Regions from separate parts of the Homo sapiens genome. Here region 1 is linked to region 2. Evidence: fine-mapped expression QTL. A gene starts in region 2. The other region holds a variant in brackets. All regions are shown on one strand. Distances are between the middles of the regions. Region 1 overlaps MCUR1 (mitochondrial calcium uniporter regulator 1). Region 2 holds the start of MCUR1 (mitochondrial calcium uniporter regulator 1).

Region 1 (5,381 bases), 26 kb after region 2:
GTGAAATGTTGTTCTTTATATTAAATTGTGTCTTCCTGTCTCTATAGTGCATATACATAGACCTTGTGACCACAGAATTTTTGCTATTCGAAACTTTTATTGAAAAGTTTTCTTAGCCTAGGCAACACAGCGAGACCTAGTCTCTACAAAAAGATTTAGCCGGGCATGGTGTCATCTGCCTGTAGCTTCAGCTTCTTGGGAGGCTGAGGCAGGAGGGTCACTTGAGCCCGGGAGTTTGAGGCACAGTGAGCTGTAATCATACCATTGCATGGTGCACTCCTCCTGGGTACCAGATGAGACCATGTCTCTAAAATAAGAAAATAAAATAAAGGGTGTGGGATTTGTTTTTTCAGTAGGCAGGCGTTTCACGGAATATGGGACATCAGTGAGCAATCTAAGTTTCTAGGTTTTCTTTTTTAGGTTTTCTTAAAAAAAGATGTTCCCTCAAGTAACTCTTAATAGAACTAATAGTACTCTCAATTGTTTTTTTCTTACAGGGTCTATATTTACGTGCCTAACAGTAGCTCTGGGATTTTATCGCCTGTGGATCTAATAAAGTGTCTATTTAAAGTGATTTCTACTGTTTTGCCTTAAGAATACCAGATTGTTGGCTGGGTGCGGTGGCTCACACCTGTAATTCCAGCACTTTGGGAGGCTGAGGCAGGTGGATTACCTGAGGTCAGGAGTTCGAGACCAGCCTGGCCAACACGGTGAAACCCCGTCTCTACTAAAAAATTAAAACATTAGGCGGGCGTGGTGGCGGGCGCCTGTAGTCCCAGCTACTCGGGAGGCTAAGGTGTGAACCTGGGAGGCGGAGCTTGTAGTGAGCCGAGATCACGTCACTGCACTCCAGCCTGGGCAACAGAGCGAGACTCCGTCTCAAAAAAAAAAAAAAAACCGGAATACCAGATTGTTGTCCTTTTGTTTTCTTGTTACACATTTGAGCCCAGATTTTGACTTAATGTGTATTATTTATTTTTATGAAAATTGTGGACACATAACCAAGATAAAGAAGTCAGGTATTCCATAGCCATTCCTTATCTCCTTTCTGCTTAGTTGACTTTCTAGCTGAGTGGTGCACAGTGCATGGAAGATTCCACTTAGCCGGACCAGGAAGCTTGGTCTCATCTGTGGTGCACACCAACAGCAAACATTGATGTAATTCTCTACAACTTAATCTTTGGCACATAGAGGATTTGGGGGTCTCCATGTTCAGGGCACAATGGCTTTAATAAGTGCTGGAAAATCACTGAAGCTAAACCAAGAGCACCAGATCCTCTTTACCTAAATAACCAGTCTTTAACATGAGCTAGTCCCTGTACCATAGTATTGTTTCAGCTGTAGTTGGTTGTCATGTTAATAAGACAGCTGCACGTCTACCTTCTTTTCTTTTGATTTCCATTGTCTTGGTAAGTTATTGTTAGGGTTATTTTTAATGTGCCTTCCAGCCAGAAAAATCAGCTGTCTAAAGAAGCATTGCAATTGTAATGGGGACTCTTACCTCTTAGAATGCAAGATTTTCCCTCCTCCCTCCCTCTTCTCCATCTCTTTCCCTCATGATTTGAGAACTGTAATAATCCTCCACTGGTGGCATTACCTACCTAGAAAACCTGCTGATTCTTAGCATGGAACTTTGCTTCAGTTTGCAGGACAAAGTCTGCTTCCTTCCGGTCTTCATTTACTTTTTATACAAGGGATGCAGTCAGCTCTCCATGTATAAGATACCTAGATGATGGATACATATTTCATAAATGAAATTTATGTCATTAATGAATATCCCCTTGCCCACAACCAGCTCAGGCTTTCAAAATTCGAGAATGGTCATGCCACACAGCATTCTAATCTAGATGGATTAATTCTGTTGTTCAAAACATTCTCATACCTGCCTTTATATTGAAAACAAATTCTAGATACAACTGGGGTTATTCTGGAAAAGCACATTCTCACCTTTTTTTTTTTTTTGAGACGGAGTCTCGCACTGTCGCAGGGCTGGAGTGCATTGTCGTGATCTCTGCTCACTGCAACCTCTGCCTCCTGGGTTCAAGCGATTCTCCTGCCTCAGTCTCCTGAGTAGCTGGGATTACAGGTGCCCACCACCACGCCCAGCTAATTTTTGTATTTTTAGTAGAGATGAGGTTTCACCATGTTGGCCAGGCTGGTCTCTAACTCCTGACCTCGTGATTCACCCGCCTTGGTCTCCCAAAGTAGTGGGATTACAGGCGTGAGCCGCTGCGCCTGGCCCATTCTCATCTTATTCAAATTACTGGCACATGGGCAAGAGAGACAATGACATGGATAGAAGCTTTTCTGCCTTTCTCTGCACACACATACAGTGAAGGAACCACAGGCAGATTTTTT[G/T]ATCAGTTTGGTGAATACATTGCTCGTTGTCACTGTTCCAACCACATTGGTAAAAAAAATAGTTACCTTTTGTCCTTTGGATGTCATGTCTAAACTTTGGAAAATATAAGTCATTGCCCTTTTAGAGAATGTTTGTGTAGTCCAAAGATTGTGAGCTCCATATAGTATGAAAATCAAGTACTTTTGCATGAGCAATAGCAGTTTCAAAGTGAAATATTATAATTTAATCTTTTTCAAGTAGATCAAAAATTCTTAACTGATTAATAAAATATTTTATCAATATATCATCCCCCTTTCAGAGAGAAGTCCCCAGAAGAGACAGCACACTTAGCAATTGCCCTCATTATTAAAGGCCTAGGTGAGTGGCATAAAGGGCCATATGCGATTATGTTTCAAGGTAAACATTACCTAACCTTGTGTGGGTTAAAAACAGTGAAGTGTCCTTGTATCCTGATAAAATTTTTTTTTAAATAACATGGTGGGTTGACATTTTTGCATCTGCTATAAGTTTTCTCACATGTCGTTCTTCCTGGTGAGAGCGGGCTGCATCATTCTGGCACTTAATTTGGGTGTTCGATTTTGCTATAGAGTTCTTTGCAGTACAGCATAGCCTCTTCTTGGCCTTGGGAACAGTGAACTCTTCTTTTGATGGTGTGGATTGCATGCATATCTGGAGAGAGGAGGGCTCAGGACTGTGTTCACTTTATTTGGTCAGATGTATTTTATTTGAAAACCATTTGAGCCCAAAATACAAGTGTACCCTTCCCACTTCTGGCTCAAGCACCCGTGAGCCGACTAGACGTAATATTAAAACTTACTGATGCTGGGTGCGGTGGCTCATGCCTATAATCCCAGCACTTTGGGAGGCCAAGGCAGGCAGATCACCTGAGGTCAGGAGTTGGAGACCAGACTGGCCAACATGACGAAATGCTCTCGCTACTAAAAATAGAAAAATTAGCCAGGCGTGGTGGCACACCCCTGTAATCCTAGCTACTCGGGAGGCTGAGACAGGAAAATTGCATGAACCTGGGAGGCAGAGGTTGCAGTGAGCAGAGATTACACCACTGCAACGAGACTCGGGCCCAGACGAGATCTGCCTGGGCGACACAGTGAGACTCTGTCTCAAAATAAATAAATAAGTAAATAGAACCTCCTGAGCTACCCTGGCTTATAAGGATTCAGATTACTTTAGGAAATTAGGCATTAGCACTAGGAGGGGGGAAGATGGCTGGCAAAACTTCTAGCTAGCAACCTATGTCTAGCACATGGGTAACTAACCATAGCGAGATCCTGAACACATATCCTCTAGGTGCAGGTGGAGGGAACGATGTCCAATACCTGAAGCAGAATCTCACATGGACGGAACGTCTGTATTTCCCTCTCCTGCACGAATCACTCATCATTCTTGGAGGGCTTCTCTGCATTCCTCCTTTTCTTCTCTCCCCTCCCCTGCCTTTTGTCTTTTCTAAAGAGTCTGAACTCCGATTTCCATGCTCTCCTGCTACATTAATAAGCAAAACCTGCTTGTGTGTACGGTTCTTTACTGGAAACATGACTTTTTGTTTCTGTATTGGTTTTACTGTCATCCAGTTTTCTAGTTTAATATCTAGCAAAACTAAATCTGAATGTACTCGCTTTTTCCGTTAAGTATGCCAAGCACCTCGGTTGAAAGGCTTGACTCAAACCAGAAGTCTTGCTGGAATTCGTCTCTGAACACTTGAAAAACAGAAACCCTGAGCCGCAACAAACATGCCTCTGTGTGTCGGGATTGCCTTTGTCTCTGCTTCCATGTGGCTTTTCCTTTTGTAGCTATGCTTAGTGACATAATCTTCCCTCTTCTAGCCTTCTCCTTTCAAGCCTGTCTGTTAATTAACCATGTCAGTATTGGCAAGCATTTATCTTCCCCCACCCTAACATGCAATCTTCTAAGAATTTTGCAAAATTCTAAACAAATATAGAGATGGTATATAGAATTCATATCTAGAAAACTTTGATTTTAATGTGAGCTTATCAAATTTGTTCTGGCTTTTTTGGCACTAAGGCAAAAACATGTTAACCAGAAATAATTTATTCTTCATGTATGTAAAATATTTGAGAATGTTTAGCCTTTTATTAGAATTTTATTTGGAAAATATTTATCTTTCTACACATTTTACACTTATGTTCCTTTGCTTATAACCCAATTTCTTAACTTTTTTGTTACTTAAGCAAATATCAATTATGTTTTATTATCTAATAAAGTGTAAGATTCTTACTATCTAAAATATTTAATTCTGTGTGACTAATATACTTTTCTGATCATTCAAATTGAATATGAAAAGCTAGAATAACTGTATTGCAACTGTTAATTCCAGCCAATTGTATAATGATAACACTGGTGAATTTCTAAGTAAATCTAATACTTGAAAATTTGGGTATACATAGAAAATAAATTTTAATATAATGTACAAAGTAACTTTTCATCATTCAAAAGAATTTCTTTAGCATGTTCATGTTATGAGTAATTTTATACAAGCTACTTGTTTGAGGGGAAATGATGAGGTTTAAATACAGGTTTTTAGAAATAGACAATTTTCTTTTTTTTTTTTCTTTTGAGACAAGATACTACTATTGCCTAGGCTGGATGGAGTGCATTGGCGCAGTCACTGCTCATGGCAGCCTCGACCTCCCAGGCTCAAGCGATCCTCCCACCTCAGCCTGGGACCCAAGTAGCTGGGACCACGGGCATGCGCCACCACACCCAGCTAATTTTTTTTCTATTCTTTGCAGAGATGGTGTCTCACTATGTTGCCCAGGCTGGTCTCAAACTTCTAGGCTTAAGCCATCCTCCTGCCTCAGCCTCCCAAGTGCTGGTACTACAGGCATGAGCCACTGCACCTGGCTGAGAAATACACAATTTTAAAAAATATCTGGCCGGGCACGGTTGGTCTTGTCTGTAATCCCAGTACTGTGAGAGGCCAAGGCGGGTGGGTCACTTGAGTCCTGGAGTTCGAGACCAGCCTGGCTAACATGGTGAAACCCTG
Region 2 (5,381 bases):
CAATGAGCCAAGATTGAGCCACCACACTCCAGCCTGGGCAACAGAGTGAGACTCCATCTCAAATAAACAAACAAAAAAAGAATCCTAGAATTGAAGCTTTTTTTTTTTAGATGGAATTTCACTCTTGTTGCCCAGGCTGGAGTGCAATGGTGCAATCTCAGCTCACCGCAACCTCCACCTCCTGGGTTCAAGCAGTCCTCCTGTCTCAGCCTCCCAAGTAGCGGGGATTACAGGCATGTGCCACCACACCCAGCTAATTTTGTATTTTTAGTAGAGACGGGGTTTCTCTAGACTGGTCTCCAACTCCCGACCTCAAGTGATCCGCCCTCCTTGGCCTCCCAAAGTGCTGGGATTACAGGCGTGAGCCACCGCGCCCGGCTGCTCATTAACTCTGATTGGGTGACATGCCCATGCCTGTGGTCTGCAGAGCGATCAGTCTCTCCAAACCGCATGGACTGAGAGCAGAGAAGAGCCACTGCCCATGGAAAACTAGGGTGCTGAGACCAAAAGAAAGGGAATGCTTTGGAAAATAAAACAACAGGTGTCACATCCAAGGAAAAGTGGATGCTATCCAACCTGTAGTTAGAACTGACATTCATTATACTCCTATCATAGGCCAGGCACTGTGCTAAGTGCTTTACATATGTTATTGTATTCAATATGGCTGGTAATAGTAATACATGAAAAGTTAGTCAACATCATTAGGCATCAGGGAAATGTTATGTTAAAAATCACAATAAGGTACCATTTTATGAGGACTGAAAATATCAAAATTTGGCAAGGATGTGGAACAACCGAAACGCTCATCTATTGCTAAGAGTGTGAAAGGGTGCAGTCGCTTTGGAAAAACAATTCAGCAGTGTCTAAAGTTAAGCTACCATATGATTCAGCAATTTGACCCAGATACTTTCCCCAACAGGGATAAAAATTATGTCCACACAAGGTCTTATACAAGAATGTTCATAACGCCCTATGCATAATAGCCAAAAACTATAAGCAAAGCAAATGGCCATTAATAGAATGGATGACCGCTTGTGGTATGGTCATACAATGGAATACTATTCAACAATTAAAAGCAACTAATTACTGATACAACAGCATGGATGAATCTCATTGATATTGAAGTCAGACGCAAAGCAGAAGAAAGACACAAGGCAATGCATATTGTAGGTCTCCATTTACATGAAGTTCAAAAAAAGACAAAACTAATCTATGGTCATTGAAATTTGAAAATAGTTGGCCGGGCGCGGTGGCTCACGCCTGTAATCCTAGCACGTTGGGAGGCCGAGGCGGGCAGATCACAAGGTGAGGAGTTCGAGACCAGCTTGGCCAATATGGTGAAACCCCGTCTCTACTAAAAATACAAAAATTAGCCAGGCGTGGTGGCAGACACCTGTAATCCCAGCTACTCAGGAGGCTGAGGCAGGAGAATTGCTTGAACCCGGGAGGCAGAGGACACAGTGAGCTGAGACTGCACCACTGCACTCCAGCCTGGGTGACAGAGCAAGACTCCGTCTCAAAAAAAAAAAGAGAAAATAGTTGCCTTGGGGTGGTGGTGGATTGTCTGGAAAACTGGCACAAAATAACTTTCTGGAGCAATGAAAATGTTCTAGATCTTGACTGGGTGGTATATACAACTGCTAAATGTCATCAAGTTGCTAAATGACATTTATCAACTGCTAAATGTCACCTAAGTCTGTGGAATTTACTGTATGCAAATTATACCTCAATTTTTAAAAATTACAAAGGACTAACATTAAAGTTTGTGCCACAGTTTAATCGTTCCTCTAATGTTGTGCACTATTTTCCCATTTTTTCACAATCACAAATTATGATACAATGACTATCTTTTGTGCATATGTGAAATTACCAATATTAAGCATTTTGACCCATAAAAATGACAAGTTTGTATAGTCAAACCTAGTAGATATTTAATATTTTGGATTATTCCCATTATCCCCATTTTTAGTTAGGTGACTTGAGAAAAGTTTACAAATTTTTGTTGATACTCATTGCTAAACTGCTTTTTCTACCAATTTTATAAATGTATACTCCTTTTACAAAAGTGTCTTAGGTTGGTGCAAAAGTAATTGCGGTTTTTGCCATTACTTGCAATGGCAAAAGCCGCAACTACTTTTGCACCAACCTATGACTTGAATCCTGTTTTTCAGTTCTTCAAATTTTGATAGACACTTATCTTGCACATCCATATGCACGCTCCTCTCTTCCCAGCACTTTGTACATCTCTCATGGCTCATAACACATTCTTCCATCACGTATGTGTACACATATGGCTGTATAGGAAAACAGCTTCTGGAGGATAAGAACAATTTGTTTTGCGGTTTTTTATTTTTAATAAAATCTCCTAGCTTGGTGCCTTATGCATTTCATTTATTTATTCAACTAACATCTTCCAAATTCACATAAGGGACCAGTTATCTGTGAATGGTGTAACAGGCCTTCAAAAAGTCCACGAAACTAAACATTACCAGTTTCAAATATACCCGACAGGTCTCATTTTAACATTCATGCCCCACGTTTTAAGTTCCCAGATTGCTACCTTCCCATGTTTTTGGTGCTCTAATCTGGAAACAAAAACTCTGAAAATTTAGTTTTGAATGTATTATGTGAGGGCCTTTCCCTGGGCCCTGCTAATAATTCCTTAAAATGCTCCCCAGAACCACATGTTTGGGGACTTAGGATAATCAGTGAAATCTAGGGCAGCCTGTCGGTCTGAGACTTTTCACAGGACTCTGAAGGGCACCGGGGTAATTCCTTTTTAAGGACAGCAGTGCAGTGAAAATGCAAATCGTGACAGCAACAAGCTCCTTCCAGTTCCGGAGTGCCCGCAGGCTCCTCCCGGTCGCCGCCGTCGCCTAGCGAATGGGGTGGGGGCTCGCACGGTCCCCGCATCTCGGAGCGCCACGGCGGGCTCCTGCCGCCCCGCCCCACCCCACCCCCGGCGCGCGTCCCGAGCCCCGCCCGCGCGCCCGGCAGGAAAGGGCGGTCCTGCGCTGTGGCCCACGCTCGCTCCCGCTGTCGGACTCTGGGCCTGGACCGCGCGTGGCCGGCGCCAAAAGCGAGAGGCATGAGCGCGCGCCCGGGCCAGTGAACTGCTCGGGGATGGACTGCGGCTCGGTCGGCGGCCAGAGGACCCAGCGCCTGCCCGGCCGCCAGCGGCTTCTCTTCTTGCCCGTGGGCCTCAGCGGAAGACCGGGCGGCAGCGAAACCTCAGCACGCCGCTGCCTCTCTGCGCTCTCCGACGGTCTGGGGGCGCTGCGCCCTCGCGCCCCGGCGGCCCGCGGCGGCGTGTCACGTGCCTCACCGCTGCTCCTCCTCCTGCTAGTGCCCTCCCCGCGCTTGGCCGCCGCAGCCCCGCGCCGGCAGCTCGGGGACTGGGAGCGCTCGCGCCTCGGGTATGCCGCACCCCCGGCCGGGCGCAGCAGCGCGTGGAGGTGCTCACCGGGCGTCGCCGCTGCCGCCGGCGCCCTTCCCCAGTACCACGGCCCGGCGCCTGCACTCGTTTCCTGCAGGAGAGGTGAGGCCCGGGCGGGAGAGGAGAGGGGGCTCGTCTCGCGGGGTTGGACGGCGGGGCGGGGATCTCAGCTACAGCCTCCCCGAGGAAAGGCCCGGCAGGCCGGAGGGCGGGTCCTCCAAGGCCACCGGCATCTGCCCGGAGCGTGGGTCGAAGGTCCGGGCCCGCCCTGCTCGGCCGCGGTGGCGGGGCTTAGCCCAGAAGAGACGAATTCCTGGGAATCCCGGGCGCTAAAGTTGGAGGGAGGTGCGTGCTGGGGCGGGGAGTTGGTGCCCGCCCACTCCTAGGGTCTGCTTTTGGGCGCCGCCTTCCAGGAGTTCTGTTTGGCAGCGCCCAGCCTGTTGGGCGTTCAAGGGGAAGGGGTGTGTATGTTTGAGCAGCAAAGCTCTGGGAAATGAAGGGATTGCTTTACAGTTTGATTTCAAATTCTGATGGAATCATTAATTCGTGGAGTCCTAGCGTCTGCCCTGTCCCTGGCGCTTTTCTAGATGTGTGAGATATATCAGTCCACAAAATCTTCCCTCTGGAGCTTAATTCTAGCAGAGCAGACGCAGTAAATATGTGTGTGTGGATATACGTATGCATAATTGATGTATATATAATTTATATATACAAATAATTTTTATATATTCGTAATTCGATGCCTGGTATAGAAAAATAGGATAAGGCTTGGGAAGTGGAATGGGTCTCCAGTTGTGAATTTAAATAGGGTGATCAGAATCGATTTCATTGAGAAGGTAGCATTTAATTAGAGTCATGCATCTCTTCAGGACAGTCGCCTACTGAGAAATGAGTCATTAGGCGACTTCTTCCTTGTGTGAATATTGTAGAGTGTGCTTACACAAACCTGGATGCTACAGCCTACTACACACCTAGACTATCAGGTAGAGGCTAGTGCTCCTAGGCTACAAACCTGAACAGCATGTTACCGTACTGAATACTAGAGGCAATCTGAACACAATGGTATTTGCGCATCTAAATGTAGAAAAGGTAGAGTAAAAATATGTATTATAGTCTCATAGACCACTGTCGTGTGTGCCCCTCTGTCCTGGGCTGAAAGGTAGTTGTGGGGCTCATGACTATTTAAAGGAGGTGAGAGAGATCACTGCCCTGGAGATGAGGAAAGTAAATAGAATCAATTTATTAGATAGCATATTGTTGATTAAAGAAAAAAATCATTTCTGATAATCAACAGACTTGGCAAAATTATCACTTTGGGCAGTCTATACATATTCATTAGTAGCCATCACTAACTACACATTTTTCATATTTTCTTCAACAGATAGGCCCACTAAATGTTGACCATATCTATAATTTAAGAATATCATTGGCTGGGGTAAAAACTGATTAGTAGAGCAATAAAGTGAAGGAAACTTTATATACAGAGAGTGGGGAATGAGTAGTGAACTCGGTGTCACTGTCCTTCAGTAATTAGGAGTCGGAGATGAGTTTGGTCTTTATTCTGTATTTTGCCTTTTGTTGCGCTTTTTCTGACAAGCTAGTAATTTCCAATTTGTTTTTCTCTCAATGCAAGAGTATAGGGCAAAAAGAGAGTGTTCTTTCTCACGGATTTGCTGACCAATCGGTAAGGTGGTACTGTTGTTTTAGTGTCAGCTATCTCATTCTTCAGTCATCATAAAAAATGAGTATGGATGCATAAAAACAGAAGAGAGCAGAGACACAGTTAAGGAAGCATGTATGCCCATTAACCAGCCAATGAGCGTTTCCCAACCATTTGTTTGCTTGGTGCCTGAGGTTCTCGGTTGAGCTACTTAAGGATGTCATGAGTAGGAAGTTTGTATTTGGTTTCCTCATCCTGTCCAAGGCTACCTTTGGGCCTCTATTG

Evidence for each region. PIP is the estimated chance that this variant, and not a neighbour inherited with it, causes the effect.
Region 1: its variant is fine-mapped to the expression of MCUR1 in T cells (TOPMed, PIP 0.95). The same link has a PIP of 0.9 or more in lung.

Annotation. Positions count from the first base shown.
Region 1 is chr6:13,785,981-13,791,361 of GRCh38, reverse strand. It overlaps MCUR1 (mitochondrial calcium uniporter regulator 1), which reads left to right. Exons shown (of 9, transcript NM_001031713.4): 9 at 498-4,805. The coding sequence ends at 553. Among named protein-coding and RNA genes, the nearest start is that of MCUR1, 26 kb to the left of the region's middle. RefSeq lists a silencer at 2,041-2,209 and an enhancer at 2,878-3,710. The variant G/T (reference allele first, on the strand shown) is at 2,359.
Region 2 is chr6:13,812,172-13,817,552 of GRCh38, reverse strand. MCUR1 (mitochondrial calcium uniporter regulator 1) reads left to right here and starts at 2,996. Exons shown (of 9, transcript NM_001031713.4): 1 at 2,996-3,538. The coding sequence starts at 3,124. LOC107986571 (a long non-coding RNA gene) reads right to left here and starts at 3,743. Exons shown (of 2, transcript XR_001743986.3): 1 at 3,464-3,743. RefSeq lists an enhancer at 2,529-2,628 and silencers at 2,789-3,058, 3,139-3,808.